Linked DNA regions of Homo sapiens. The protein of the gene in region 7 purifies or fractionates together with the protein of the main gene of each other region. This does not show direct contact. Each region holds a gene or a part of one and is shown on either strand. Other genes may lie near its edges. The genes, in order: CELSR3, UGGT2, EDEM3, IGSF3, RPRD2, TMTC3 and CEACAM8.

The links.
Region 1: the proteins of CEACAM8 (region 7) and CELSR3 purify together in Homo sapiens (affinity purification with mass spectrometry; one large-scale study listed by BioGRID and IntAct). This does not show direct contact.
Region 2: the proteins of CEACAM8 (region 7) and UGGT2 purify together in Homo sapiens (affinity purification with mass spectrometry; one large-scale study listed by BioGRID and IntAct). This does not show direct contact.
Region 3: the proteins of CEACAM8 (region 7) and EDEM3 purify together in Homo sapiens (affinity purification with mass spectrometry; one large-scale study listed by BioGRID and IntAct). This does not show direct contact.
Region 4: the proteins of CEACAM8 (region 7) and IGSF3 purify together in Homo sapiens (affinity purification with mass spectrometry; one large-scale study listed by BioGRID and IntAct). This does not show direct contact.
Region 5: the proteins of CEACAM8 (region 7) and RPRD2 purify together in Homo sapiens (co-immunoprecipitation; one large-scale study listed by IntAct). This does not show direct contact.
Region 6: the proteins of CEACAM8 (region 7) and TMTC3 purify together in Homo sapiens (affinity purification with mass spectrometry; one large-scale study listed by BioGRID and IntAct). This does not show direct contact.

What each region holds. Positions count from the first base shown.
Region 1 is NC_000003.12:48,648,690-48,653,339, reverse strand, and holds part of CELSR3 (cadherin EGF LAG seven-pass G-type receptor 3 precursor), read left to right. Parts: intron 1-152; coding exon 153-338; intron 339-786; coding exon 787-903; intron 904-1,291; coding exon 1,292-1,463; intron 1,464-1,621; coding exon 1,622-1,763; intron 1,764-1,860; coding exon 1,861-1,981; intron 1,982-2,264; coding exon 2,265-2,448; intron 2,449-2,758; coding exon 2,759-2,860; intron 2,861-4,124; coding exon 4,125-4,219; intron 4,220-4,411; coding exon 4,412-4,621; intron 4,622-4,650. UniProt on the Homo sapiens protein: Receptor that may have an important role in cell/cell signaling during nervous system formation.
Region 2 is NC_000013.11:96,050,097-96,055,394, reverse strand, and holds the start of UGGT2 (UDP-glucose:glycoprotein glucosyltransferase 2 precursor), read left to right. Parts: upstream 1-1,993; 5' UTR 1,994-2,082; coding exon 2,083-2,240; intron 2,241-5,298. UniProt on the Homo sapiens protein: Recognizes glycoproteins with minor folding defects. Reglucosylates single N-glycans near the misfolded part of the protein, thus providing quality control for protein folding in the endoplasmic reticulum.
Region 3 is NC_000001.11:184,705,799-184,710,448, reverse strand, and holds part of EDEM3 (ER degradation-enhancing alpha-mannosidase-like protein 3 isoform 2 precursor), read left to right. Parts: coding exon 1-55; intron 56-2,104; coding exon 2,105-2,296; intron 2,297-3,621; exon of another isoform or gene 3,622-3,640; coding exon 3,641-3,806; intron 3,807-4,650. UniProt on the Homo sapiens protein: Involved in endoplasmic reticulum-associated degradation (ERAD). Accelerates the glycoprotein ERAD by proteasomes, by catalyzing mannose trimming from Man8GlcNAc2 to Man7GlcNAc2 in the N-glycans.
Region 4 is NC_000001.11:116,587,104-116,591,753, reverse strand, and holds part of IGSF3 (immunoglobulin superfamily member 3 isoform 2 precursor), read left to right. Parts: intron 1-2,649; coding exon 2,650-3,060; intron 3,061-4,650.
Region 5 is NC_000001.11:150,471,855-150,475,464, reverse strand, and holds part of RPRD2 (regulation of nuclear pre-mRNA domain-containing protein 2), read right to left. Parts: coding exon 2,131-3,610; 3' UTR 1-2,130.
Region 6 is NC_000012.12:88,193,979-88,198,168, forward strand, and holds part of TMTC3 (protein O-mannosyl-transferase TMTC3), read left to right. Parts: intron 1-859; coding exon 860-1,671; 3' UTR 1,672-4,190. UniProt on the Homo sapiens protein: Transfers mannosyl residues to the hydroxyl group of serine or threonine residues.
Region 7 is NC_000019.10:42,581,928-42,585,668, reverse strand, and holds part of CEACAM8 (cell adhesion molecule CEACAM8 precursor), read left to right. Parts: intron 1-1,960; coding exon of another isoform or gene 1,961-1,990; exon of another isoform or gene 1,991-2,147; intron 2,148-2,331; coding exon 2,332-2,423; 3' UTR 2,424-2,463; intron 2,464-3,741. UniProt on the Homo sapiens protein: Cell surface glycoprotein that plays a role in cell adhesion in a calcium-independent manner. Mediates heterophilic cell adhesion with other carcinoembryonic antigen-related cell adhesion molecules, such as CEACAM6.

The DNA.
Region 1 (4,650 bases), on a different chromosome or scaffold from region 7:
TGTCCCCTGGCACAGTGCCCTTTGTGCCAGGTATAACCTTGACCCCACTGTTCTGACCTCTGATATTCCTGACCTCTGAGCCCTCTGATCTCACCTCCAAGTCCCAGCCCACATGGGGCTCTAACCCCAGGGCTATGCATCTCTGCCCACAGCTAGATCGGGGGTTACTGTCTGTGACAGTGACCAGGGGCTCGGGCCGTGCTTCCCATCTCCTTCTGGACCAGGTGACTGTCAGTGATGGCCGGTGGCACGATCTGCGGCTGGAGTTGCAGGAGGAACCAGGTGGCCGGCGGGGCCACCATGTCCTTATGGTCTCACTGGACTTTAGCCTCTTCCAGGTCTGGCCTCTGACCCCGGGGTAGTCTGTTCTCAGCCTTCCAACCAGATCCGCCTTATTTGACCCCACCTCTAGTCCAGCTCCTCTCAGTTCCCTCCACTGCACTGAGTCTGATGTTCTACCCCTAGTTCCCCACCATATATCCTTGCACTGAGCCCACCCACCAGCCAAGTTGGTCCACTCTCAAGCCCTCTTTGTGCCAGATTTGGGGCCTGGTCTTGGGGAACCTCTGTAGCCAGCACTTTGCCTGATTCCTAGAAGCCCCTTCTAGTCTCTGCCCCAGTCTCTACCCACCCCCGGTCAAAATCAAGCAATATTAAGGTCTACTGTGGGTCCAGGAGGGAGGGGGCAGCCTAGAAGGGCTAGAAGAAGGCCAAGACTGACTCTGGGCTATGACAGGGGTTCATCAGGCCCCTCTCCCTCAGTGCTGACTGCCCCACTTCCTCCAGGACACCATGGCGGTGGGGAGTGAGCTGCAGGGCCTGAAGGTAAAGCAGCTCCACGTGGGAGGCCTGCCCCCCGGCAGTGCAGAGGAGGCTCCTCAGGGTCTGGTTGGCTGCATCCAGGTGGGGGTCAGCATGGGAATGTGATATGGGGCATTAGGGTCAGGGGTCAGAAGTCAGGGGCTCCTTGGGACCTGAAAGGCAGTATTCAAGTGGGGGTTGGTGCGAGGGGGTGAATGACCCAGAGTTGAGAGCTAGGTCAAGCCTTTCTGTGGCATTGGAGGTGGGAGTCTAGCTTGGATTATCAAGGGCCTTTAGGAATCTGTGTCAGAAACAGCACAATTAGGGTCCCACAGGGGTACCAAATTGGGGATATTTTTGAGGCCTGGGTTTTTTGAGGGTATCAGAAGACTGCATGTCAAGGATCATCAGACCGGGTGGCTGGCTCTGCAGTACTTGAGGCTGAGGTGCCTTAACATGGTCTCACCCCTTGCTGGCTGTGTGTCCACAGGGGGTGTGGCTCGGCTCCACACCCTCTGGCTCCCCGGCCCTGCTACCCCCCAGCCACCGAGTGAATGCGGAGCCTGGCTGTGTTGTGACCAACGCCTGTGCCTCTGGGCCCTGCCCACCTCACGCAGACTGCCGGGACCTCTGGCAGACCTTTTCTTGCACCTGCCAGCCAGGTGAGCCTTGAGAGGGTTGGGGGAAGGGTGACCTGGGCAGGCGTTAGGGGCCCATGATGAAGACTGGGGAACCTGAAGGAGGCAGGGACTCGGGACGGGTGCCTGCTTCCTTCCATGCTCTGCGACCAGGATCCTGAGCTTTCTGACCCAATCTGCAGGTTACTACGGCCCAGGCTGTGTGGATGCCTGCCTCCTGAACCCCTGTCAGAACCAGGGATCATGCCGGCACCTGCCAGGAGCCCCCCATGGCTATACCTGTGACTGTGTGGGTGGCTATTTCGGGCACCACTGTGAGCACAGGTAAGAGGCTGGGGCTGAGGCGATGGGGAGACCTGGCAGGGACAGGGAGGGTCACTGGGATACCGTGGAGGCATCTTACCTGGCTCTGCACCCCCAGGATGGACCAGCAGTGCCCACGGGGCTGGTGGGGGAGCCCAACCTGTGGCCCCTGCAACTGTGATGTTCACAAAGGTTTTGATCCCAACTGCAACAAGACAAATGGGCAGTGTCACTGCAAGGTGCGCCTGGCCCCTGACCTTTTAACCCTTCCTTGGACGCAATCTGCAATTCCTGTCCAGCTTGCTGACCTCCGCCACCTGACTTGGGCCCTAACCTCTTGCCTGTGTCCTGTGACCAAGTTGCTGTCTCTCATCCTTTACCCGTGACCCCTCCCTTGGCTTCACGCATGACCCAGGTGTCCTCTGGCCCATGAGCACTGTTCTCTTGACCCTTTATCCTTGATTCCACTCATTCCCCAAGCCCTGACCTCTGACTTCAGGCCCCTGGCCCATCCTCAAACAGGAGTTCCACTACCGACCGCGGGGCAGTGACTCTTGCCTCCCATGTGACTGCTACCCTGTGGGCTCCACCTCGCGCTCATGTGCACCCCACAGCGGGCAGTGCCCCTGTCGCCCAGGAGCCCTTGGCCGCCAGTGCAACAGCTGTGACAGTCCCTTCGCAGAGGTGACAGCCAGCGGCTGCCGGGGTGAGCAGGCTCCACCCAGCTCCACCCATAGAGGGCTGGTTCCAGTGTGCCACCATCACGTGTCAGTGGCACACATGGCTCCTTGGGGACTCTGGAAGCTTCTCCTGAGGGAGACCACTTACACCCAGGGAACCCTACCTTTGCCCCAAGTACTTTGCTGACCTGTCACAGAATCTGACAGGTCAGCTCCTGAGAAGCCAGCAGGAGTGGCGGGCAGTGGGCCTTGTGGGGGGTGGTGGAGGGGCAGTGGGTGTGGCTGTCAACTGCCCTGTACCCTGACTGCCTGGCTCAGCACCTCTTCTCTCTCTAGTGCTCTATGATGCCTGCCCTAAGTCCCTGAGATCTGGTGTGTGGTGGCCCCAGACAAAGTTTGGCGTCCTGGCCACAGTGCCCTGTCCCCGGGGGGCCCTGGGTGAGTATGTGGGGGGAAAGGACATCACTGAGGGTGGGGGTGGGCCTGTACTCTGACTGCTAGAGCCATGTCTTTTCCTAAATTGGGTGGCTTTGTTCCTGCAAAGAGGTGGAAGTGGGGTGGGAGTCCATGTGGGCCCCTCCCTACACCCTCATTGAGCCTCCATCTGTTTCTCTTGGCTTCTGGGCAGGATTGCGGGGTGCAGGTAAGGGGTACGTGTTTGCTCAGGTGCACTGCCCCCTCCCACTACCAGAGCTTTTGCAGACCCCTCCTGCTGCCTGAGGTCCCTGCAGACCCCTCCCTGCTGCCTAAAGTCCCTGCAGGCCCCTTCTGGCTATCTGAGTACCCCAGGGGCCCTTCTCTGATGCCTGAGATCCTCAGAGACCCCTCCCCATTGCCTGAGGACCCTGCTGACCCCTTCTCAGTTCCTGGGGTCCCCATAGAACTTTCCCCACTGCCTGAGGTCACGAAAGATCCCTCCTCAGTCTGAGGACCCTATAGCTCCTTCCTGCTGCTTGGGGGCCCCTCCCCACTGCCTGAGGTCCCCTCAGAACACTCCCTGCTGCTTGAGGTCTCTGCAGTGGCTGGACAGAGATTGTTTGTGTACGCATGCTCACGTGTGTATCTCTGTGCCTGTGCACGTGTCTGTGAACCTGTTGCGGGGAGGGGATTCTGTGATTAAGTTAGGCTCTCTCTTGTTGGTAGCTACAAACTTTTTTAAGATCCAAGTCAATTCTCATTCAACCTCCATCCCAACCCCAGAGACAAGGGAGAGAAATGACAGCAAAGTAACCACTGGGGCAGTTAAAACTTGTGTGAGAATCCTCCCACCTGACTTTCACTGGATGTTCCTAGAAGCCCTCTTCTGTGTTGGCATGTCTGTGTGTGTGCGAGAGAGCATTGTGTGTCTGCGTACTGGTCTGGTCCATACATCTGTGTGTAATTGGTGAGCATTGGTGTGTGTCTGTGTGAACCAGCACATCTATGAGCCAGTCCTGGCCCACGTGGGTGAGTGTGTGCAGCCCCACCCTTGTGCTTTGTGTGGTTGCTGGTTGAGAATGGTCTACAGCCCTCTCAGGAATTGCCTGACAAGCAGCTGGGGCCTACCTGGGCTTGGGCCGCTACCTCCAGGGGTGCAGCTATAGATGCTCATGACTCTGACTTCTGCCTCAGGGATTCCCCCAGCATAGGAGAGGGTGCTGCGGTTATCTCCTCAGCAAAGGTATCCAGGCCCCAGGCCTGACCAGGGGTTGCCTGCCTCCAGGTGCTGCTGTGCGGCTGTGTGATGAGGCCCAGGGTTGGCTGGAGCCCGACCTCTTCAACTGTACCTCCCCTGCCTTTCGAGAGCTCAGTCTGCTGGTGAGACTGCCCAGACCTTTTCCTGCAACCTAAGACCTTCCTTGGCCTGTGGTGGGCCCCAGATACCACACCCTAGCCCTTGAACTCCTGAGCCTTTCCTGGTTGCCCTTTAATCTGGCAAGGCTTTCTCCCTGTGAAGCTTTAGAGGAAGGCCTAAGGGACCACAGAGCAACCATCTCCTTGTCTTGGCAGCTGGATGGCCTAGAGCTGAACAAGACGGCACTGGATACCATGGAGGCCAAGAAGCTGGCTCAGCGGCTACGGGAGGTGACTGGCCACACTGACCACTATTTTAGCCAAGATGTTCGAGTCACTGCCCGCCTGCTGGCCCACCTGCTGGCCTTCGAGAGCCATCAGCAGGGCTTCGGGCTGACAGCCACACAGGATGCCCACTTCAATGAGGTGGGGCTGTGCCCTATGTTCTCAGTGCC
Region 2 (5,298 bases), on a different chromosome or scaffold from region 7:
TGTATTTTTCTCGTATACACTATGGATAGAAATGAAGTGCATTTGCCTTAGCTTTCTACATTCTTTCCATAAAGCAAGGGTTCTTCAATCTTCATGGAGTCCCCAAATAACATGTGAATGTGAAGTATTGTGCTAGGTACTGCACGGGATGCCAAAGATGAACAAGGCATGAGTTCTGGGGGAATATACTATCTCTCACAGGAGAAATAAGTAAGTAGCGTACTCAAGTATTAAAGTGAGAACTTAAGTGCTATATGGCAGTTACAATAAAGAGGAAATTTAAAGTAAGGATAGATCATACCAAGTAGGATAAATCAGGAAATGAAGGCTAAACTTTGGAAGTGAGAAATTATTCTGGAAATTCGTGGAACTGCTTAGCGGAATAGGGTTTTCTAAGGAAGGGTACTGACTAAGCAAATGAAACGAAAAAAGGGAATGACTATGTTTCCGCAACTTCAAGAGATCCAGCTTCCCTGCAGGGCAAAGGAGTAACAGGAGAGAAAAAAAGCAATGAATCCGTGCATCCGCTAAACTCTTTTACCATATATTTTACTCTGACAAAACAACTATCACGTATTGGCCTTTTGTTTGTTTGTTTTTTTGAGACACGGTCTCCCTCTTTCGCCCAGGTTGGAGGGCAGTGGCGCAATCACCGTTTTCTGCAGCCTCTACCTCCTCGGCTTAAGCTACCTTCCCGCCTCGACCTTCCAAAGTGCTGGGACTACAGGCGTGAGCCACCATGCTCAGGCTTATTGGCACTTTTCTGTGCACTTTTAAATGTAATCCTCTAAATCACTCTTCTCCACCTTTCCTGTGCATAGGAATCACCTGTGGTTCCCGTTAAATTGGAGATCTTGATTCATTAGGTCTGGGGCGGGGCCTGAGCTTCTGCATTTCCATTGAGCTCACAGCTGAAGCCTACCCTGGACCACACCTTCCAATGGAAAAGGCTCCAGTGTGATTTCTAGCCACTAGTATTATCTGCGAACTTGGGAGAAATAAAATGCAAGTTCTCGGCCCCCGCAAGGGCTCTACTGAATCCGAAACACTGTGGGGAGGCCCACCACTCTGCAGTGTTTTAACAAGCAAGTGGTTAAAGTTTGAGAGCCACCCGTAAGTCACGGGTTTCCTAACATGATTGGACACTGGAATCACCTGCGGATTTTTTTTTTTTTTTTTTTTTTGAGACGGAGTCTCGCTCTGTTGCCCAGGCTGGAGTGCAGTGGCGGGATCTCGGCTCACTGCAAGCTCCGCCTCCTGGGTTCACGCCATTCTCCTGCCTCAGCCTCCCAAGTAGCTGGGACTACAGGCGCCCGCCACTACGCCCGGCTAATTTTTTGTATTTTTAGTAGAGACGGGGTTTCACCGTTTTAGCCAGGATGGTCTCGATCTCCTGACCTCGTGATCCGCCCGCCTCGGCCTCCCAAAGTGCTGGGATTACAGGCGTGAGCCACCGCGCCCGGCCTGCGGATTTTAACTAATACTACTGATGCCGCATCTCACCCCCCCTCCCGAGATTCTCAGGTACGGGGCGTGGCCTTGGCGGCGGCCTTATAAAAGCTCTCCCAGGTGATTCCAACCTGTAGTAACACTTGAGAACTGCGTGAGGTGGGGACTTCAACTTTAACTGGACTTATTTTCCTCCTATGTAAAAGGTGGACAATATGCAAGTGGTCCTGACTTTGCTTCCAGATTTTGGCAACTCCAGAGCCCTAGTTCGGTCTGGAGAGCCAGCTTCCCGCCCCGTGTCCTAAGGCCTCTGTCCGAGAACCCAAAGTCCTGGGAATGGACCCGCGGGAGCGGACCCGCGGGAGCATCTGTGACGCCGCTCAGCAACCCGGCGCCGCCCCGGCGGCTCCGACGTGGCCCAGTGTCCGGCTGGCGTGGGCTCTCCAGGCCGCACCCACTAAACCGCGCCGGAGCGGGACACGCATGCGCCGGTCTGGACCCGGCACCCAGTAACGGACTCGAGCTCCTCCCACCGGAAGTGGGCAGCCGCGCAGCGGGAAGAGCCGGCCGAAGCGTGGCGGCCACAGACTGTGGGTACCGGGTCCGAGGGACTCGCGCTTTTCTCTCCGTGCCATGGCGCCAGCGAAAGCCACGAACGTGGTGCGGCTGCTACTAGGCTCCACAGCGCTGTGGCTTTCGCAGCTCGGCTCCGGGACGGTCGCCGCGTCCAAGTCGGTGACTGCCCACTTGGCCGCGAAGTGGCCCGAGACCCCGCTGCTGCTGGAGGCAAGGTGGGTGCGGGCCGGGCCCTCGTCCGGGCGGGTGTGGGCGCGCTGCCACCCTCAGCCGCGCTTTCTTCGTGCTCGCAGCGGGTGTCTGGCTCCCACCCGGGTTCTCCAGACGCCCCCGCTCTGGCCCTGAGCATCACCACCTCCTTCCTTCCCGACCCGGGGCGGCTTCTCGGTTCCCGTGCAGCACTCACTTGCAGTTCCTTTCCCCCTCAGTCTTACTTTACCTACGATTTTTAAAGCTTCCCTGCCCTGCTTTAATACGTTGGGATGTATTAGCATTTACGCGTGGCACTTAACGCAAGAGCTTCTACTGGGGTAGGCAGTTCTGTTCAGACAGTGCTTAAAGTACCTAGTTTCGTAATGATGACATCATACCATCAGCTCCTAGGCTTACTATGGGGAGGGCAGCTTCCTGCAAGGTAATATTTTTCCTGTATCTCTTCCAACGGAATTAGTTCATGACCTGTCATTTACTCTGCAGAACAAAACTTGTAGCTATTGCATTTTGCCCTTTAGTATTCTAGTTGAGTAAAATTAGAAAGTTCTTTCTCTTAGCAAAAATGAAGTTTTACACCAATGACTTAATGGCTGTTCACCACAGCAACAGTGTGTGTCCCTAAAAAGAGACTCCATGACTCCACATAAGTTCATGTATTTGATGCTAAAAGTTCTTTTTTTTTTTCATTTCTATAGTTTATTGGGGAACAGGTGGTGTTTGGTTACATGAGTAAGTTCTTTAGTGGTGATTTCTGAGATTTTGGTACACCCATCACCCCATCAGTATATACACTGCACCCAATTTGTAGTCTTTTATCCCTCACTCCCTTCTCAACCTTTCCCCCGAGTCCCCGAAGTCCATTGTGTCAATCTTATGCCTTTGCATCCTCATAGCTTAGTTCCCACATATCAGTGAGAACATACTATATTTGGTTTTCCATTTCTGACTTACTTCACTTAGAATAATAGTCTCTAATCTCATCCAGGTTGCTGTGAATGCCATTAATTGATTCCTTTTTATGGCTGAGTAGTGTTCCATCATATATATGCCACAGTTTATCCACTCGTTGATTGATGGGTATTTGGATTGGTTCCACATTTTTGCACTTGTGAATTGTGCTGCTATAAACATACTTGTGCAACTATCTTTTTCATGACTTCTTTTCCTCTGGGTAGATACCTAGTAGTGGGATTGCTGGATCAAATGGTAGATCTACTCTTAGTACTTTGAGGACTCCCCACACTGTTTTCCATAGTGGTTATACTAGTTTACATTCCCACCAGCAGTGTAGAAGTGTTCCCTGTTCGCTGCATCCACGCCAACATCTATTATTTATTTTTATTTTTTTATTATGGCCATTCTTGCAGGAGTAAGGTGGTATCGCATTGTGGTTTTGATTTGTGTTTCCCTGATCATTAGTATGTTGAGCATTTTTTCATGTTAGCCATTTATATATCTTTTGAGAATTGTCTATTCATGTCCTTAGCCCACTTTTTGATGGGACTGTTTTTTTTTTCCTGCTGATTTGAGTTCCTTGTAGATTCTGGATATTAATCCTTTTTCAGATGTATAGATTGTGAAGATTTTCTCCCGTTTTGTGGGTTGTCTGTTTACTCTGCTGACTATTCCTTTTGCCGTGCAAAAGCTGTTTAGTTTAATTAAGTCCCAGCTATTTTTTTTATTATTATACTTTAAGTTCTAGGGTACATGTGCACAACGTGCAGGTACATAGATATACATGTGCCATGTTGGTGTGCTGCACCCATTAACTCATCATTTACATTAGGTGTATCTCCTAATGCTATCCCCCGCTCCCCCAACCCCACAACAGGCCCTGGTGTGTGATGTTCCCCATTGTGTGTCCAAGTATTCTCATTGTTCAGTTCCCACCTATGAGTGAGAACATGAGGTGTTTGGTTTTCTATCCTTGTGATAGTTTGCTGAGAATGATGGTTTCCAGCTGCATGCATGTCCCTACAAAGGACATGAACTCATCCTTTTTTATGGCTGCATAGTATTCCGTGGTGTATATGTGCCACATTTTCTTAATCCAGTCTATCATTGACGGACATTTGGGTTGGTTCCAAGTCTTTGCTATTGTGAATAGTGCCGCAATAAACATGTGTGTGCATGTGTCTTTATAGCAGCATGATTTATAATCCTTTGGGTATATACCCAGTAATGGGATGGCTGGGTCAAATGGTATTTCTAGTCCTACATCCTTGAGGAATCGCCACAATGTCTTCCACAATGGTTGAACTAGTTTACAGTCCCACCAACAGTGTAAAAGTGTCCCTATTTCTCCACATCCTCTCCAGCACCTGTTGTTTCCTGACTTTTTAATGATCGCCCTTCTAACTGGTGTGAGATGGTATCTCATTGTGGTTTTGATTTGCATTTCTCTGATGGCCAGTGATGATGAGAATTTTTTCATGTGTCTGTTGGTTGCATAAATGTCTTCTTTTGAGAAGTGTCTGTTCATATCCTTCACCCACTTTTTGATGGGGTCGTTTAATTTTTTTCTTGTAAATTTGTTTAAGTTCTTTGTAGATTCTGGATATTAGCCCTTGGTCAGATGGGTAGATTGCAAAAATTTTCTCCCATTCTGTAGGTTGCCTGTTCACTCTGATGGTAGTTTCTTTTGCTGTGCAGATGCTCTTTACTTTAATTAGATCCCATTTGTCAGTTTTGGCTTTTGTTGCCATTGCTTTTGGTGTTTTAGACATGAAGTCCTTGCCCATGCCTATGTCCTGAATGGTATTGCCTAGGTTTTCTTCTAGAGTTTTTATGGTTTTAGATCTAACATTTAAGTCTTTAGTCCATCTTGAATTAATTTTTGTATAAGGTGTAAGGAAGGGATCCAGTTTCAGCTTTCTACATATGGCTAGCCAGTTTTTCCAGCACCATTTATTAAATAGGGAATCCTTTCCCCATTTCTTGTTTTTGTCAGATTTGTCAAAGATCAGATGGTTGTAGATGTGTGGTATTATTTCTGAGGGCTCTGCTCTGTTCCATTGGTCTATATCTCTATTTTGGCACCAGTACCATGGTGTTTTGGTT
Region 3 (4,650 bases), on a different chromosome or scaffold from region 7:
GAGTTTGATTCACCTCAAAGATGGGAGAGTCCAGTTGGTCCAACATGCAATCCAAGTAAGACATTGCTACACTAATTAGATACCGTCTCTGCCCTGCTTTCTTTGGTCGCATTAGCTTTAATAAGATAATGGATTTCAACTTTCTAAACACTTTAAATATACTGTTTAAAGTGAGAGAATGAGAATTTTAGGACTTGGAAGTATCTTGGAAAGTCACCTAATTCAACTCCTTTATAGTATAAATCAATTAAATAAATCAGAGCTAGGTTGGGTAATTTGCTGAAGTTAATATAATCAAATGCAGGACTCAAATCTAAGTTTTCTGTTTCTCAGTCCATTGGCTTTCCCCTGTTACTTTTATTTACAACATAACTTCAAAAACTAGTAATTAGTTTTAATATTCATATCTCCATGTTTTACATCATTTTAGTCTCCAAAGAGCTACTGAATCTTAAGTATTTTGTTCATCATAGGTATTTATTTGTCTGTGCCTAGGAAAAATAACATGTCTTTTTGAGAAATTTTTATTGATTTTTACTTTGAAAGTTTTTATAACACAAAGTTTTTAAATTATTTACCTTATTAGTATATTGATTCTGAGAAAACCACATAGTTTGCTGAATAATTTTTAACCTAGAACCATATTCAGGTATCCTTTAATCTCAAATTCAACCCTCCCACAACTTCATCACACCCTCAAGTTTTCATCTCATCCATATTCTTGCCACATCCTTCCTTCTTTTAAGAGTATTCTTCCTTCTTCCTTGTATTTTATTTGGCCTCAGTGGGAGTGACATCTCTTGTGACATTGCTTTTACTTACTTAGGCTGCCAATGGCATAATTACTGCCAAGTGGCCTCTTGATCCTTATATGATTTAACTTTTCTGTAACTATTGGCTGAACCCTTCATAAAACATTTTCCCTTTTTGGCTTCCCAGGATATTTCAGAAACAAAGTTCTTTTTCTACTTCACTGTTTATTGCTTTGTAGCTCTCCTTGGCACAACCACTCAATGTAAACAGTTTCCAAGAATCTGGATGATATTCTTTTCTCTATATACTCTTCTTCAACAGTGTCACCTATTTCTACAAGCTTAGCTATCATTTTTATACATATGACTTCTTAGCTATGTATGTGAATCCTGATTCCTAAATTTACTATTAAATTCAACTTTCATCTACCTCTCATACATCTTGCATCTCAATCTCAATCTGTCCAAACTTGAATTATCTCTTTCTTGTTTACTCTCTTTCTACCCTCACCTCAACCTATGTTTCCTTCTTTGGCTCTCCATGTCAGTAAAACCTATCATCATTCTTTAAGTCATCAAAGCTGGAAATTTCAGGATAGGTTTGAACTCTTCTTCTCTTCCAGTTCCTCTTATCCTTTTCCATCCTCTAACTTCTATCATGTCTTGTTGGTTTTTCCTGTAAAGTATCAGGAATCATCTTATTTTTTTCTATTATAGTCATTCTTCAACTTTCCCTCTGTTAAGACTCAATTCAAGTGTCATTCTAAATCTTTCCCAGGTACACACAAGCAGAATCAATTGTTCCCTCATCTGTGCTCCTTTTCCACTTTCCCACTTGAGAAATTTTATCATAGCTAACTTTACATGTCTTTCTCCTCCAGACACAAATTTCTTAAAGGACTGTCTCTCCAATGCCTAGGCAAGTGCTGAGATGGAATAAGTGCTTCACAGATATGTTTTGAATCAAATTGAATCTGGTTGTTCACTATTTCAAGGAGGGAAAGTGTGGGTCAGGTATGAGGTTTATTTCTTCAGAGGGAAAGCCAGTGGGGAGAATAAGCAAAGTGAGCATTTGAGCATTCGCTAGAAGTCCAGTTCTCAATCTGAATCAAAAGTGGTTTATAGAATAGCGAAAGTGACATTGATAAAAAATACGGATAAGTTATTTTCAGAAATACTATTTCTGAAAGTATTATTTTTGAGTACAAATAAGGTCATAAATACTTGGTGGTGACCTAAAGTGAAAGAAGAAGTTGTAGAGTAGAATACTACAGTACAGTGTCTTTAGGAAATCAAAAAATTGGTGGAAGTTTCCAGAAAGGAAGGATAAAATGAATTTGTTTTTTTCATAGGCTGCTAGTTCAATCGACGCTGAAGATGGGTTGAGGTTCATGCAGGAGATGATTGAATTGTCAAGTCAGCAACAAAAAGAACAGCAGCTGCCTCCACGAGCTGTACAAATTGTTTCCCACCCATTTTTTGGCAGGGTAGTATTGACTGCTGGACCAGCTCAGTTTGGGCTGGATCTGTCTAAACATAAAGAGGTATGTATACTTAAAATATAGTTGTTGAAACTGAATTTAAAATATTAAGTATTGCCTTATTTCTTAGTCTCTTCTCTAATTTAGTAGTTTTAATTTATTTAAAAAACTGAAATAGTCAATCTCCTGGATTTAAGTAAAGTAAAAGCATGTCTTGAAAACTTTGAGTCATAATTTATGTATATAATATGCTTACAGAATTTTAACTAAAATATTATTCAGGTTCTATTCAATTTCTTGGTCTCTTCTCTAATTTAATACCTGTAATTGATCTAAAAATGGTTTTCAGACTTTCTAAGAGCCACTAGAACCTTTCTTTGAACAAAAGTCTAAACCAGGAGCTTAATGTAGAAAACAGCTAAAAGCACAGAAGCTCTGGCTCAAGTGACTGGAGAAAGCCTGGGACCCTGAGGTTCCACTGGGCAAACTTTGAAGATCATTTAGCTAGTCCATCCTCTATAGTTGTAACATAGTTATAACGTAGAAAACAAAGACTTACATAACTAAGCAATTCACAAAGTTATCTAACTAATTGATTGCAGAGCTGGGACCAGAGCCCAAGTATCGTGACAATCTAAAGCCAATGCTCTTTTCACTCTATTACTGCTAATTTAGACTTTTTTCTCATGTATATTTTAAACTATGTAGAAGCTATATAGATTGATTGATTCATTCAACTGTTGATTGAGTGCCTACTATATTCTGTGCACTGCTTGCTGTATCAGTTTACAAAACCAATGAAGATCCATGCCCTTATGGAATTTACATTTTAGTAGAGTGAAGGATATTAAAACATCTTTATAGTAACGTGTTTAAAAAAATTAGTTCCTTGGTGGATTTAATTTTTTTGGTAAAAAGAACTGCTTGCAGATTCATATAGACTAAGTCCATTTTTTCCCCTTTCAAAAACTTTTCTTGTTACCAATGATCATTTCAAATTAGTTCCCAGCTATTGTAAATGTAGTGAATCTGCCTGCAGGTCCCAACTTTACTGCTTAGTAACATCGTGTTAACATTGTGAGCAAATTACGTAACCTGAGTCTCAATTTCCCCATATGTGAAAGGGAAATGTTATTTGTATTGTTTTGCTCAGGGTCATTATAAATAACAGATTTTGTAGTTTATATAAAAATGTTCTATAAACTGCAAAGCACACTAGAAATATTGGTTGAGTACTGTGATATGCAAAATGTTTAAAACAATATTTTATGGTGACTATATGTTAGATACGTTATCATTAGAAAAGAAATGAGTTCTAGTTCTTTTAAAACTCTAGATATTGAGGTTTAATGACTTGATTGCCATTTGAGAAGATTAAAGTATTTAAGTTGCTTTTATTTCTGACAGACAAGAGGATTTGTTGCAAGCAGTAAACCATCCAATGGTTGTTCAGAGCTTACTAACCCAGAGGCAGTGATGGGAAAAATCGCACTGATACAAAGAGGACAGTGCATGTTTGCAGAAAAGGCACGCAACATCCAGAATGCTGGAGCCATTGGTGGCATTGTTATTGGTAAGTAATCATCCATGTCATTGTGTTGACTGAAGGGGAGATAATTTTTAGGATTTTTTCCCTTTTATTTTCTAAAATTTTATCAAAGAGTTTGTCATAGTTTTTTTTACCTCACCTAGACAACAAGGATAGGTAATCCAATGACTTTTAATTTCTAGATATCTAACATCTTTTTTAAAAGTCTAGATTTGAATTTCTGTATATTAATGTCAGTGAAAATACTTGGGTTTAGGTGTGAGGGTGAGGTAGGGCTGAGTAGTAAAAAAATTCAGTACCATGGATAAGAAAAGGTGCCCATGAGATCCATAACCCCCGAAGGGCAAGAATTACACTGTGCCACGTCCAGTGGGGAGCCATTGAAAATTTCCATTACTCCACAAAGATGCAGGCTTTGGAGGCAGACACATGAGAGTACAGTTCCTGGCTCTACCACAAAATTGCAGTGTAACCTTGGCCTAGCTTCAGTTTTTTAATCTGTAGATTAAATAGTATAATTTTTTTTTATTTGATAGTAGAATATTTTTGAGCTCCAGTGGAAGTGATAATAAATATATTTTAGGTGATTGTAAGGTTTAAAGATATATAAAATTTCTTGGCATAATAGCAGACATAGGATAAGTGCTACTATAACAGGGTTTACAGTATTGCTAGCAGATCTTTATCCCCTTGGATCTTTTTCTACCGAAATGACAAGTTACCACCTTTAAATCATCTTACCTATATGTATCAACTAGTGGGTTTTGCTTTTTTATCTTTCATAGACAATCACTTATATCATGATAAACAGGCCATGACTATTAGGGGAAATATAAATTTTTCTGTTTTAAAGTAAATAGGAGTTTAC
Region 4 (4,650 bases), on a different chromosome or scaffold from region 7:
TCCCTAATTATATGTGGAGATTCCAGTCTCCCCTGTGCCTCAGGAAAGGTCCTACCTGCCCTGGAGATGTGGGAGGAAATCCAGAGCATAGAATAGGAGCTGACCCCTTGCCCACCTGTCAGACGTGCACCAAATTTAAAAAATGCCTCTCTTTCAAGCTTCTCAACACTTCACAATATTTTGACATGGGAAGGAAAAAAAATGGAAATGCTTTGAAACATTTCTCTTCCTTGAATTCATGTTCTCAGACCATGTGACTGAATAGAAGTTTAGTCATAGGATTCCAGTTTAACATATGCAGTTACTATAGCAATTGAGGTTTCCTTAGTAACAGTTGCAAAAATAATCCGGCCCCAATTAATAATACATTTTAAAGCTCTTTCTACTCCATGCTGAACAACCCAGTTTTTTTGGCCAAGAACCAGATAATTCAGGTGGTGTCATTTGCACTGATATAGATATCATTTGCATGCGGTGAATTGGGTTGGAAAGGAATGAAAAGGGAGCCGGTTGTTTCAAGTATTATAGGAATCCAATCTGAAAAGTCGACTGGCAAGCGAATGCAAATCTAGTTTCCAGAGCTTGGGAGCTTAATGGTAAACCCTGTCCTGGATTCCTAGTGTGCCCTAGAGGACTTTCTGCATTTGAAGAAGGGAGAAGGCAGAAGATTGGACTTGCTAACAAAAAAGATGAACCCGGGAGGGTGGGGCCGTGGCACACAGGATTTCTCTCTAAGTGGTGCCTGGTGTGTTCTTGATGGCGTGAGAAGGTCTGTGGGTTTGTGAATTCAACAAGTCTTCCTGGAGAGAATGTCCGATTTACTGCGGGAGATGCTCCGCAGTGTTGCTCAGTCATGGCATTGGGAATTGGACTTTGCCACACCTTGGCTTGCTAAATCCTTCCATCCATTCAGAACATTTGTCTGTGTGTTACAGGGAGACCAAGTGGCAGTCTGTGGCTTTCACAAGTTTTGGTTCTGTGATGCATGGGACTCAATCAACCCTTGATGCTGCCAAACCAAGCTTAAGCCAGCTGGCAGGCCAGGGTCATGACCAGTGGGCTGGGTCCTGGGTCTGGATGCAGTTCCTGGGGTTGAGCTGGACTAAAGAGACAAGAGTCTGACCAGTAGAGTGCTGGAGCCTGGCCAGGCATCCCTGCCCTGCCCCTGCCCCTGCCCTCCACACAAGCTCGGTTGGAGGAGGCCTAGGTTGCTGTCCCTGGGTGGAATCTGCACCTTGCCCCTGCTTTCTTTCTCAGCTGGGAAGTGGTTTGGTCCCTGTGGCGGAAAAACTAAGTGTGAAGAGAGTGGTGGAGGTGGAACAATTCTTGTACTATTAGTTCCCTAAGAGGAACTTAGAATTGTTTTTTTGTTTTTTTTTTTTCATTTTTAGTAGCGGGAAAGGCTTGGGTAGGGGAATGCAGAGCCGAGGTTAATGATGATGGGGTGGGTGAGATCTCAAATCACCTTCCTAAGATGGATTTCATTAGACCTTGGCTTCTTGCCACTGGCAAGGTGAACATCGTCATTAATTAGCTGCTGGGGAGGCGCTCCACAGGCTGCCCTCTTGTCTGTTTTTGGAGCAGGACAGTGAGGAGAAGGGAGGATTGTAGTTGGCTTTGCCTTGTCCCGTGGTTTACTGTCTTCTCAGCCTTCTCTCTCACTCCCCCAGAGGAAGCCCCCTCTCCCCCCGCCCGCAGCATCCTCTAATTACCTGTTGCCGTGTTTCTCCAACGTGCTCTCATTCGCTCACCCACTCGTTCACCTATTTCAGCAAACACTGATCAAATGCTTTCCTGGCCCAGGTGCTGTGCTAGGCTCTGGGGGTGCAGCGATAAGAATGTCCGCTAGGCAGTCCACCCCATGAGGGCTGGGACTCCGGCTTACTCTTCAGGGCATCCCCAGCACTTAGCATCCTGTGGGAAACCGAGTGGGCACTCCGTAAATACTGGCTGATTGAGTGGAAGGAGTTTGATCCCTGCCCTGGGGGAGCTCACCATCTAGGATATGGGAGAGAGATGTGAGGACACACAGCCCAGAGATATATAGAGGGTGCTGAGGAAGGGTATGGAGCCCAGGGGGACGGGAATGAGGGATAAGTGGAGAGAAGGGTCAGGGTGGGAGGTGGCAGAAGGAGACAGGCAGAGAGGACAGCAAGGGCAAAGGCCAGGGCTCAGGGAAACTGCACCAGGGGCATGCGCCTGTGGAGGGTGCCTGAGGGTGAGTCGTGAGAGATGAGTCAGGACACTTGGGTGAAGGCCAGATCCTGAAGGGACTTTGTGCTGTGAAAAGGAATTGTTTCTCTCTGGCCCGTAGGTAGTTCAGAGCCATTAAACTTTTCAAGCAGAGACCTGATATAGCTAGATTTGTATTTCAGCAGGATCACCCTTGGAGGCCCTGTGATGGTGGGCTGTGCAGGCAGTGGATAGGGGAGAGATGGTGAAGGCCTAAGCCAGGCGCATGGCAAGGAGGAGACAGGGAAGGATGTTTAGCGGTGGCCTGGGCTCCGTGCTGCCTTCCTCACACTGAAGCCAGTCGGTGTTAAATCCCCCAGGAACTGTGCTGGAGGAAACCTGGCTCAGAGCCTGGAGGTGGATGGGCCACGTTTCTGGGAGTCTGTGGTGATTCCTGTGTTCCCCTTTCCTTTGCAGTGACAAAGCTGCAGGTGAGCAAATCGAAGAGGACCCTCACCCTGGTGGAAAACAAGCCCATTCAGTTGAACTGCTCAGTCAAGTCTCAGACTAGCCAGAACTCCCACTTTGCGGTGCTCTGGTATGTCCACAAGCCCTCGGATGCCGATGGCAAGCTTATCCTGAAGACCACCCACAACTCCGCCTTTGAATACGGTACTTACGCCGAGGAGGAGGGCCTGAGAGCCAGGCTCCAGTTTGAGAGGCATGTGTCGGGGGGCCTGTTCAGCCTCACCGTCCAGAGAGCCGAGGTCAGCGACAGCGGCAGCTACTACTGCCACGTGGAGGAGTGGCTGCTGAGCCCCAACTACGCCTGGTACAAGCTGGCAGAGGAGGTTTCTGGGCGCACAGAAGTCACTGTGAAACAGCCAGGTAAGGCCGCAGGGCACGGCTGTCCTGGGCCAGTGGGTTTAGTGCAGAGACTGCCTGGGGGTGGGTGGGGATCTGTGGGGCTGGTGTGGAGAGACTGTCTGCAAGGTGCATGCTGAGTATGGGTGCAGGTACACGGACCATCACCCTAGCACACTGCAATCCCATCCATTTTACCTGCAGTGGGTCCTGATGCTGACGGCAGACTCATGGAAGCATCCTTGACTCTGCTTCTGTGGATACCATCTTCACCAAGGAGCAGGGCAGCTGTGGTTAGCAAAATGTGGCAAGGCAGGGTTCATGGCAGCTCCTGAATCTTCTTCTGGGTTTGCAGTTTGCACCCTGAATCTTGGGCTGACACCAGCTCCACACCCAGAGTTCCTACCTAGAAGGCATTTTCTGGTTTTATGCATCTGCATCCCCCTTCTTCCTTAGCTCCCAGCCCGCCCAGACAAGCCTTTCCTATCTCCAAACTGAATCATTCCTCCTCTGGCCCTTCCTTGATCCCATGGTGTAGCCCTTATTCCTCTCCCTCACAGGTGGCACTCAACCTCTGCCAGAATGCTTCCAGGGAGGGAGAGCTATTCAGTCCGCAAGCCTCAGTTCCATTTTTGGGCAGCTCTGATTGTTAAAAAGTTCACTTTCCTGTAATTTCCCTTTTTAGATCTGCCCCTGGAACAACCAAAGAGAAGTCTGCGTCATTTCCTTTCAAATACATGAAATGTATGCCCCTTCTCTGTTAAAGATCTCTAGTCCTTTCAACTTCTCACATAGTGTAGCCTGAAGGGCCTCTCCACCCCTCATTCTCACATCCCTGCAATTCGTTGTTGTCACTGCCTGTCCTTCTTGATGGGCCATGGGGGGTGCTGTGTTGCCACCCAGAGCCTCATCTCCGTGCCTTCGCTTGTGCTGCCCTCATTGTCTGAAATGTGTTTTTCCTGCTGCTTCTCCCTTGTCTTCACTCCATCCCTAAGACTTCATTCAGCACCACCTCCAAGAAGCCTACCCTGATTTCTCCCATACCAGTAGGGGTCCCTTCTAAAACACATAGCCTAATAATGGTTTGCATTTCTTCTGTACTACTCTGTAAGCATGTTGAGGACAGGGCTGTGTCTTATATCTTCAGCCACTGGCATGGTACTTTTAGTAAATATTGGTTGAATAAGGAATAAATGGTTGCTTTCCTTGATCACCCTAAGGCCTTTGTACTTATTGTTCTGTCAGCCTGGAACATGTTGGCCATAGATATTCATTTGTCTTGCTCTTCCGTGAAGGGGGATTCCTAGCTCATTTTAACTTAAATGTAGCCCCCTCATCACTCTAGATTTCCTTTCCCCGGCCCTTTCACAACACATATCACCACCTGACATTCTGTTAATTTACTTATTCATATATAAGTAATTATGAAGTATTTACTTATAATTGACTTATCAGTTACTATGTCTTATTATTTTTATACTAGAATACATATATATATACACACACACACATTTGTTTTCTATCTCTTCTACTAGAATTGAAGCCTCCTGAGTAAGCATAGGGACTTGGTTTTCTTCACTATTGCTTGTCTCCTAAGGAGGCCTATTCAGTAAG
Region 5 (3,610 bases), on a different chromosome or scaffold from region 7:
TCAGGAAGCCACTTTCCTGACATCCCCACATTTTCTGATAAAAATTAAATGGTCAGAGAGCCTTATCAAGTAAACACTACTTTTAGCTTAAACAAGAGCAGCAAAGAGAATTCACATTCTTTTATTCTAGAATGAAAAACATCCCATTTAATTTCTGCAAAAAAAAAACCTATTTCAATTTTGAAAGTCAAATATCATTTCCCCACCTCCCACCCCATTTTCTCTTATGCTTTTCCCTAACAAATGTCTTAGGACTCAATATAACTATACTTTCTTTTCTTTGCTACACTACATACCCCATCCCACACGTAAGGTCATGGTATCATGCATTTTTGTGGGGAGAGCTACAGGGCAGAGAGGGTCGAGGAAAGAAAGAACAGTTGGCTTAAGACCAGACAGGCATTAAGAAGATGAATGACCTGCAGCATCCTAACCCCAGAACACATGGCGAGCCCAAATAAATAACAGAATAAATTACGCAAAAACTCCCAAATCATGATGTGCACCTGGTTTATGCTGCTCTTTCTCTGAAAAGTTCATTCTGAGAGAATCATTTTCTGTCACTACATTGCCCACCCTCCCCCATCTTTAATATTCTACTGGAGGAAAAAGCAACCCCATACTTCCTATAGTTAGTTCTATACTAACTTGGAAGAAAATATGAAACTTGCCAGAATTCTCTGGAAAACTAAACACATACTGTTTTACTCATCTAGCTGGAGATTATCAGTTGAGTATGCCTTGGGGTAAGACACTAAATTAAAAAAAAATTGTAGTAAAGCAACATTTACTTTTCAGTGTCCCTAGATATAAAGATATAAACACTCAAAGTACAGTGATTGTCTATTTCCCAAGTACTAGATGTAGAAATACAAACAAGTCTTTCAGTCCAGGGAGAAGGAAAGCACTTATCTTGCATGTAAAACAACTAAGGGCAGAAATGGTCTTTATTTCCTATTGGGAGCGAGAGGTGGGGGTAAGACTTGAGCCTTGAAATGGGATAGACACATGTGTATAATATAAAGGAAAATGCTACTGAATCTCCTCCTTTAAAATATCAAGAATAGGGGTGAATAACACGACTGAGGCAAGGGGAAAAGGAAGATAAAGACAAATATTTCTTTCTTTAATAGTTAACCTTTGTTGAAAACCACCAATAAATATCACTTACATTAGGGAGGCACCATGGTAAAATTAATGTCTACTTCTTATATTTAAAAATGCAGGGATAATATTTCTGTTGCACCTTTGTATCAATAGTCAACTGTAGTGACTGTCTTTCTGGCCACAGCAGAAGAAAAACTGAGGGAGATAAAGTCAAAAAGGAAAAGCAAGAGGCATGAGCTTGGTGCAAGACATGTGAAACTACCTTGAAAACATTTCCTATTCTCTTGTTTACAAAAAAACAGGCAGGTCACATCACACCATTAATGCTTCCTTTCCTTATTTTACATACTGTAGTCACTCCTTATTTTAACCTTGAGGCTGATTAAAAAAAGATTTTAGGAGAAGGGTAAAGAACTAAACTTCAACATGCCTTTAAAAACAAAACAAATAAACCTGACAGGTTCAAGGTCTCTCACATTTCCTCCCTTGCAACATCTCTTGGCTGTTAGCAGGACACAGATACACAGGGAAGGGAGCCGAGCTGGCTACAGCAGTTACTAAGCTGCCGAGAGAGGGGACGGGAATCCTTCCATTGACTACTCGATAAGCCAAGCCCAAAATAACATCCCAACATTGCACATGTGGTTATCTGTACTGATGGAAGTTTTATTTCAAATGTAATAATACTCTTCAATAGATGGGGTAAAATAAAGATTGTTTTCCTCCCCACTCCCCAACCCCCCAGCCAAATGAAATGGCTTTGGTTGTGTTTCTTTACTTTTTTTTTTTTTTTTTTTTTTTAATACAAACAACTTGGGGAAGGTAGATAAGTGCAATGGGAGGGAGGATTGAATTGAATAGTAAAACGTAAGCGTATGTGATTTCTTACTTTGGAAGAGAGGCCCTTTGTTATAATAAAAAAAAAATCGAGAAAGAGAAAACAAATAAAAACAACAACAATAAACCAAACTCCTACTTCCAATGTTCTCTAGACTGTTCAAAATGCCTTTCCCTTGGTTTCCATCAGTACCTGGGAGGGAAGAATGGGCGTTTTGGTGCAAAGAACGGAGGGCCCCTAGCAAAAGGTGGCCTGGGTCTCTTTAAACTGTGAAATGGGTCTCTGCTGAGAAAAGGTTCCCTAGGCCGAAAGTCTGGCCGGGGACTCCGTAAGATTATACCACTCCGGCTGATGGTGTCTCTGTGTGAGGGACCCAAGGGGGGGCCACTGCTGCTGTTGCTGCCTCCCCCACCTCCTCCTCCATGGGGTGGGCCCAGGTGTTCCAGAGAATGGGAGGGTAGGGTGAGGCTCTCTCGTACACGGCTAAGGCCAGGGCCGTTGAGGTCCCGTTGGGTGGGGCCCCCGTGGTCCCTGGGTCCTGGGAGTACCCCAAAATGCTCAGCCAGGGTCCCTTGAAGGAGGGAACTATGGTCCTTGGGAAATACTGCCACAGCCCCTGCCACTCCGTGCTCTGCCAGTGGTGGGGCTGGGAAGGGTACAACTCCAGAGTGGTCAACAGGGGGTGGAGGAGGGGGTGGAGTAGAAAAGGGGACACCACTCCCACCACTGCTGCTATGTTCCCCAGGAGGGGGAGGAGGAGGTGGGGTAGGGAAAGGAATTCCACTGTGCTCTCCAGGAGGAGGGGGTGGGGCAGCATGGGCCAGGGCTGCCTCCTTTGTGAAGGGGTTCGAAAGATCCACAGAGGGTAGATGAGTGGGTGCATCTCGAGAGAAGATACCACCATGATCCTTAGGAGGGACAGGTGGGGCAGATGATGGCCCCACTGGCTCTCTCTGGAAGGGTGTCCCATGTTCCAAGGGGGATGGGGGAAGATGATGCTCAAATGTTGAGTTGAAACTGTTGGAACGAAAGCTGCCGACACTCTCCTGAAATTGAGGTGCCCGTTCCTTGTATGGTGCTGTTTTAAAGCCAGTGAGGCCTCCGCTGCCCCCACCCCCAAGGGATGCCAACTCAGAGGCACTTGAAGGGCCATTGTCAAAAGAGCTACCTGATGTGCTCAGATCAAACCAACCCACCCTTGAAGCCTCACGCCCATGTCCTCTATTTCCCTTCCCAGGAACTCGGATGGACTCTACGGTCTGGATCGGCTCCCCTGACATCCTCCTATTGGATGCACTGTGATAACCCAAGGTTTCTATAGGGGCCCCCTTTTCTTCTGTGCTATCAGGCAAGTCTAAGCAGGAGGAGGAGACGCGGGTTTCTATGCGGTAGTGCTCTTCTTGTTGCTGCTGATCAGTGGCGGTCAAGCTGGGTTGGGTGAGGTTTGAGAGACTGACACCATCACTTGGAGTGCCCTTGCTGGGAGCCTGGCCAAAATGCTTATCATCTGAGGGCTTACGTGAGGCGTTTTTAAGCATATTCTTAAATTCAATCGTCGACGTGGTGGAAATGGTGGAGGCCAGGACTTTCTCCACGCCTGACGTGGGTGGGTGACCCGTGGGAGCGGCAAGGGTGTTCTGCGGAGAGAAAAGGGAACGATGTGGG
Region 6 (4,190 bases), on a different chromosome or scaffold from region 7:
GGGAGGCCAGGGTGGGGAGGATCACTAGAGGCCAAGAGTTTGAGAATAGCCTAGGCAACATAGTAAAACTCTGTCTCCACAAAAAATTTTAAAATCAGCAAGAAATGATGGCACATGCCTGTAGTCCCAGCTACTCGGGAAGCCAAGGTGGGAGGATTGCTTGAGCCCAGGAGTTTGAGGTTACAGTGACCTGTGGACACAGCACTGCCCTCCAGCCTGAGTGACATAGTGAGACCCTGTCTCAAAAAAAAGAAGATACATGTTTCCTAAATCCTAATTTTATAGCCCTATATTTAATGGTATGTTTTTGTCCTCGAAACATTCCTAAAACTTTGAAGTAACATTTTTTAAAATGTGATACAGTCATTCTGAAGCTTTTTTCTACCCAGTAATAGTTACTATTTGCTGAACATTTTTTCGATATACAACATACAATTATTAGAAAACTCAGTTAACCCAGAGAAGTTAAGTAACATGTTCAGTGTATAAAGTCATAATGTTATCAGAATCAAGATTGAATACATGTCTTTGTTGGCAAATCCCATGCTTCTTTTTCTGAATTCTCTATTTTCCTTCTATTTCCAATTGAATTCTAAATTATAAGAGACATTTCTCTCCTTTTGGTTTCTGAAGCACTGTTACTGCTTTAAAGGAAAAGAAATAAGCTATCTTTTTACTGTTTCAAATATTTTGCTTTTCCTATGAAGACTTCGAGATTTTTGCTTTCTACTTTTTTTAACTATGGAAATTAGTTGTTTTGAAGCTGTCTTTTTGTAATCTAAGTATTTGAAAATGGCTTTGTTCCTCACATTTAATTATTTTATTAACAATATATTTTTTCTTTAAAAAAACTTTCTAGGTGAGGTTAAACTCAGACCTGAAGCTAGAAAACGACTTCTAAGTTATATAAATGAAGAGCCACTAGATGCTAATGGGTATTTCAATTTGGGAATGCTTGCCATGGATGACAAAAAGGACAATGAAGCAGAGATTTGGATGAAGAAAGCCATAAAGTTACAAGCCGACTTCCGAAGTGCTTTGTTTAATCTGGCTCTCCTGTATTCCCAGACTGCAAAGGAATTAAAGGCTTTGCCAATTTTGGAGGAGTTACTCAGATACTACCCTGATCATATCAAGGGCCTCATTTTAAAAGGAGACATTCTGATGAATCAAAAGAAAGATATACTAGGAGCAAAAAAATGTTTTGAAAGGATTTTGGAGATGGATCCAAGCAATGTGCAAGGAAAACACAATCTTTGTGTTGTTTATTTTGAAGAAAAAGACTTATTAAAAGCTGAAAGATGCCTTCTTGAAACACTGGCATTAGCACCACATGAAGAATATATTCAGCGCCATTTGAATATAGTCAGGGATAAGATTTCCTCATCTAGTTTTATAGAGCCAATATTCCCAACCAGTAAGATTTCAAGTGTGGAAGGAAAGAAAATTCCAACTGAAAGTGTAAAAGAAATTAGAGGTGAATCCAGACAAACACAAATAGTAAAAACAAGTGATAATAAAAGTCAGTCTAAATCCAACAAACAATTAGGAAAAAATGGAGACGAAGAGACACCCCACAAAACAACAAAAGACATCAAAGAAATTGAGAAGAAAAGAGTTGCTGCTTTAAAAAGACTAGAAGAGATTGAACGTATTTTAAATGGTGAATAACATTAATATTTATCGTGACAATGGTATCAAAGAACATCAATCCGTATCATGTGATTGCTTTTACTGGGAGCTTTGAAAAAAAGTTCAAGGGTTCCTAATGGTCAATCATGAGCTGCCTTGAAGTAGGATCAAAATAAGATTTTCATTAAAGACCTGTATTATCCCAGGATGTATATTATGTATCGCTGTTTTCAGAGTGTGGGTGAATATAGCAGAAATATTACAGCGGAAGTGACAAATTTACAACTTTTATTATAGAAAGAAGGTGTTTCTGGCAATGTAATCTTTACTGCTCTCAATTAAAAATAATTTTGAGGCCTGAATGATAATCCCTTGAGGACAAATCCAACATGTGCTGGTTTATTCTGTTAATTCCCATTTATTTGCCTACTTCATTTTTCTTGCACCTCTTAGAATCTAACTATGAATTGAAAACACTTAAGTAATTCTGTTTAATCAAGGGATTTACACTACAAAAGAATGCTGGCTTTTTTTATGTTGTATTCCTTAGTTGAGTTTTAGAAGGAATGCTTGATGAAACATTTTAAAATAAGTCATGACATGTTAGCTTGAGAATGTATTTTCATAATTGTATACTTGTTTTTAACTTTAAATGTAATTTTTAATCAGGTAAAGTTTGACACATGTATAGCTACATACACACATTTTTAATGGTGCTCATATATACTGTATTTTTTGTTGTTTAGTTTTACTTATTGAGAGTGTCACAACATGAATCACATAATCATGATTTTTTTTTTTTACTTTTACTCCCCAAATTATTCATGTTTCTTAGATCGTAGTCATTGAGAAGTCCCAATAACTCTAAACTTTTGAGTTATAACGTAGTAAACTTCTCTTTCATCTTTGTGTTAGCTCTGTAGTCTTAACCTGGATTTTAATTTTTTTGTTTCCAAAGTCACAATTGAATTATTCTTAGATACCTTAAGCCACTGAATTCAGTTCTGTTTGACTGAAAGCAAAACAACGTGACAGTTTATTTTCAAACACTAACTTCTTGATATTTTGTTATGGTATATCTTTTTATTAAATATTTATTTTGACTAAGCTTTCATAAAATATTTGAAGCTATTTTAATCATCAAGTATGGAAAACAAATTACTATTGCATTTTCCTATATATGCATATATTATGGATTAACCAGAATTGTATCATTTTTGGCCTAATGTCTGGATATAAAAGATAATTAGCCTACTATAGTATTAATAAATTTTTCAGTTGGTTTGGGCAAATTTAAACCTGAAAAATAGGTTAAAAAGTAGTTACAAATTAAACTTACTAATTTATACCTGATTTTTTTTCTTGAATTAAAGTACATTTTAAATGAGCTTTATAATACCTTAAAAAGTTGGTTCTAATTTAAAATATGAAAGCTCTGGCTATCATCCTGGGATAGTAATTTCTAATTATATAGTATTTCAAAACTATATATTTTTTAGTTCCTTTGAGATAACTAATTTCTAATTATATATGTTTCAAAAACCATATCCTGTATTTTTTTTAAGAATTGTTTTATAAATAGGTCATAAGATACAAGGTCTGCATTAGAAGACCCACTCTTACTAGGTTCCCTAAGGATCTGCCATAGATTTTTTTTTTTTTTTTTTTTTTTTTAGGTAGTTTAAAGCAAGCACTGATACCAGTGGGAGTTGGTCTTGATCTAGGAGATTCTGTTAAGCATCCAAAAACAATGCCTAATTTCAGTTCTTAGGTTATGGCTTGTGACTCCAGATAAAAGATGGAGAATACCTCATGTACTGTGACTTGAAAATGAATTCTTAAAATTCTTAGGCTCTCTCCATGTATCTTTCTTAAGGAAAAGTTTCTGAGTGTGATCTCTCTTTTGCCATAGTATCAAGTGGAGGGTAGTTCAGAAAAGTTAATAGGAAATCTTTTGTGACAGCAGACTATAATAGAAGTTTGAGTAATATTTTAATAAATTTATATAATTCAAATGATAAAAATGTATCAATGTTATCCAATGATTTTTATTAAAAAATTACCTTATTATTAGAACTGTGCCTATTACATAAAAAGTGCTCATGTATTTGAATTTTAAATAATTTATTTAAATCAAGACCACCATAAGTCATTAATAATTTAATAATTGTTTTAAATCAGTGGTTTTCAACCCTCACTTCATATTAGAATCATCTGAGGACTTTTAATATGGAATCCACCTCATAACAATTAAGTCTAAATTTCTGGAAGATGGAGCCATGCTTGTTTTTCCAAAAGCTCTTTGAGTGATTCTAATTTGTAGTCAGAGTTGAAGACCACTGCTCTAAATTAGTGCAGGAAAATGCTTTTATTTCTCCCATGTTAACTTTTAAAACTAGTAATGTACCCAGTTAAGTTTTGATGGTTTAAATTCCACTAAAGAACATATTCTTCTAATAACTAGCATTTATTACATGAAATTTAAGAGTTTAAGTTCCATCAAACTAGCCCTTGTGTAAGATTATTATTTCTTCTCTATAACTTCAAAATAGATATTT
Region 7 (3,741 bases):
GAAAGCTTTCAGTCTTTCTCTATTGAGTATGATGTTAGCCTTGGGCTTTTCACATACTGCCTTTATTATATTGAGATAGTTTCCTTCCATTCATACTTAGCATGTTTTTATTAAGAAAGAATGTTGAATTTTGTCAAATGAAATTTTTATTCAATCTTCCTACTAATTATAGGTCTATTCAGATTTTTTGTGTGTGTTTCTTGGAATTTGTCCATTTCATCTAGGCTATCCAATTTATTGGCATACAATTATTCATAGTACTTTTGTAAACAATATTTCTCTAGAATTGATATATAATATCTCCATTTTCTTTTCTTTCTTTCGTTTTTTTTTTGTTTGTTTTTTTTTTTTTTTTGAGAGAGAGAGAAAGACGAGTCTCACTCCTTAGGTCAGCCCAGGCTGGAGTGCAGAGGTGCGATCAAAACTCACTGCAGCCTCAACCTCCTGGGCTCAAGCAATCCTCCCAACTCAGCTTCCCAGGTAGCTGAAACTACAGGTGCATACCATCATGCCCAGCTGAATTTTTGTTTTAATTTTGTAGAGACAGGGTCTCCCTATGTTGCCCCAGCTGGTTTCAAACTCCAGGCCTCAAGCAATCCTCCCAATTTGCCTTCCCAAAGTGCTGGGATTGAAGGTGTAAGCCACCATGCTGGGAGTCCATTTTCATTTCTGATTTTAGTAATTTCCATCTTGTCTCTTTTTTTCTTAGTCAGTCTAGTTAATGGTTGGCAATTTTGTTGATCTTATTTTGAAGAACCAACTTTTGGTTTCATTGATTTCCTCTATTGTTTGTCCATTCTCCATTTCATTTATATCCACTCTAATCCTTATTACTTCCTTCATTCAATATATTTGGGTTTAGTTTGTTTTTCTCCTGTACCATGAAGTTGCAAATTAGGTTGTTGATTTGAGATGTTTCTTCTTTTTTAATGTAAGACTTAACAGTTATAAATTTCTTGCACAAGATTCTTAACTTCTCTGAGCCTCTGATTCCTCAACTGAAAATTGCAGTAACAGTGTTTGCTTCATAGCATTGTTTTAAGAGTTTTATGTAATCATCAATGAAACCTTCAGCAAAATGCCCCACACAGAGGAAATGTTTCATAAATTTTAGCTGATATATTACTACTGTTATCATTAGCTTGAAGCTGAGTAGTCCTAGAATCAAATCTCAAGTCTACTTCTCACCAGCCATATGACATCAGGAAAGTTTTTTCACCACTCTAAGCCTCTGTCGTTTCATCTGTAAAATGGAAATAATGTTCTACCCAAGAGAGTTATTGTATAAATCAAATGAGGTAAAGTATTTAGCACAGGGCCTGGCCCATAGGAGCTGCCCCTCAACAGTAGCTAACATAGCATTAATCATCAGCCTGAGTTGACTGGTGAGGGCCAAAAGTAAATGGTTCCAATAGAAATAAAGAAACAGATGCAAAAGGTTGTGTGTGTGTGTGTGTGTGTGTGTAAAAGGTATCTTAGGTAAATACACACACATATAAAAAAAAGGCAACACAGGAAACACGAGGACATGGTTACTGGTTACACGTGAAAGAGAGAAAAAAAGCTAAGTGCAAAGAATCAAACCTGGTATGTTAGTTTTTAACCCACTGAGATGCAACCAAGATGAGATTAGACACGCAAGATAATTTACTAGGAAAAACACCTGTGAGGGAAAATGGGGCAGGTGTGAGAGGAGCCTGGGAGAGCCCTCAGACCACGATGCAGATTTGATTCCTGTGAAGGAGAAAGAAAAAGAAGTTTTAGATAGCAGTGCAGTTCTAAGTGAGTTTAGGCAAGGCTGATGGGGCGTCCTCCAACTAGTCACCCATCAGAGTTAAACAGAGTCTCACAAAACTGGGCTTGCTTCCATACCCCTGCTGGGAGCCCCTGGGAAGAGAGGTCTCTGTGCAAAGGAGGTGGTCAATTTGGAATGCACTGACCTGGGCCTTCTGTCAATCAGCTCCCTGCCATAGAGACCTGCCACAACTAAGACACTGAGAAAAAGATGCAACCATGAAAAGGTGGAAAGTTCTAATGACACATAAAATAGCAATCAGCTTTTTCACATCACAAAGCCTTCAAAATATCTGAGTAAAGAAATGCCAGGATGAAATTGACCGAAGACTGATCGTCAACCTAGAAACATGGTGAGAGGAAAAAATCCTGCAAGAATATAGTTGGCTAATCACGTCCCAGCAACCTTCCCACAAAAATAATGTATTCCTTGAAAAAACAAGTAGAGACTACTTCATGCTAGGAGCTGGTTCCTGGGGTACCCCACTGTAAAATGGCATCAACTTCATTCCTTCTCTTCTTTTCTTTCCATGACAGATGCTTTAGTACAAGGAAGTTCTCCTGGCCTCTCAGCTAGAGCCACTGTCAGCATCATGATTGGAGTACTGGCCAGGGTGGCTCTGATATAGTAGCTCTGGTGTAGTTTCTGCATTTCAAGAAGACTGGCAGGTATGATGGCCTTTCCTCTTGTCCTGTTTCCTGCAGGGCTGACCGCCATGCTTGGGAGAGAGACCTGTATCCCGGGAATGGATCTCCTCCTCCTCCCAATAAACTCCTGCTTCTCAGCACTAATTCCTGCAGGTCTCTTCTTCCCTGGTCTGCATGCTCCCTGTACCCCACTGTCTCTTAGATGTGATTATTCCCAGCCTCTGCTCATTTGTTTCCCAGATTCAATACACTATGAAAGTCTTTTGATCCTTTCTTAACATCTCTCACTTGTGTCATTTTATCCATTCCCATAGACCTCAACAACTGCTCGAAGTCCTGCTTGACTTCTTGTCTCTAGTATTTGAAATCTTCCTTGCATATGATTGTCTCATTACCTTCCTAAAATCTAGTTCACTCACTTACTCAAGAATCTTCAGAGGCCTACTCTGGCCTATTTGATAAGTTCACATTTCTTCTCTTTACTAATTCTTCTCACTTCCATTCCCTCTACTCCCTAGTATAATTCCTCCATCCTAATTAGAACTGTCTTCCTACACTTCCCTGCGCATCTACCCCATATACACATAGAATTCTTAGTTCCAATGCTATGCCTAGAAACAGGGTAATCTCCCATCCACTATCTGAACTGTGGAGTTGCCCACATACCCTTCAAAGCAAGCAACCTCTGACCTCATGGAGAACAACGACTCTAGCATTAATGTGTGAACCTGAGATTCAGGACACAGCCTACGTGTGGTTGAGAACCTTTTCCTGATGACCAATTCATGTGTTCATGAAAGATACAGAAATGAAAAAGGCAAGATCCCTACCCCAGAGAACATACAGCCTAAGACAGGAGATAAGATATGAAAAATAATCATAATACCAAAATAGAAAAAAGTGAATGCCACAAGAAATCAGAGAAATCTGATGGGAAATATAGCCACACATTGGAATCACTGAGAAATGTTTTTTTAAATGATGCTCAAGCCCCATCCATAAATTCTTACCTACTATCTGGAGTGGGACCCAGGCATTGGTAATTTTTAAGCCTTCCCAGATGCTACTAACATGTAACCAGGATGGAGAACTCCTGTTCTAATAGGTAGCACATGAGGCTAAAACAATGGTTCTTTAGCTGGGAGTATTAGAATTTCCTAGAAAACTTTTTCAACATATACAAGCCTATATTTTGCTGGCCCTGTTCATTAATGGGCTCCACCAAGAACTCAGTAATCCAGTTGAGAAACAGAAGCTAAGTGGAAAAGCCACCTTATTTTATATATATATATATATATA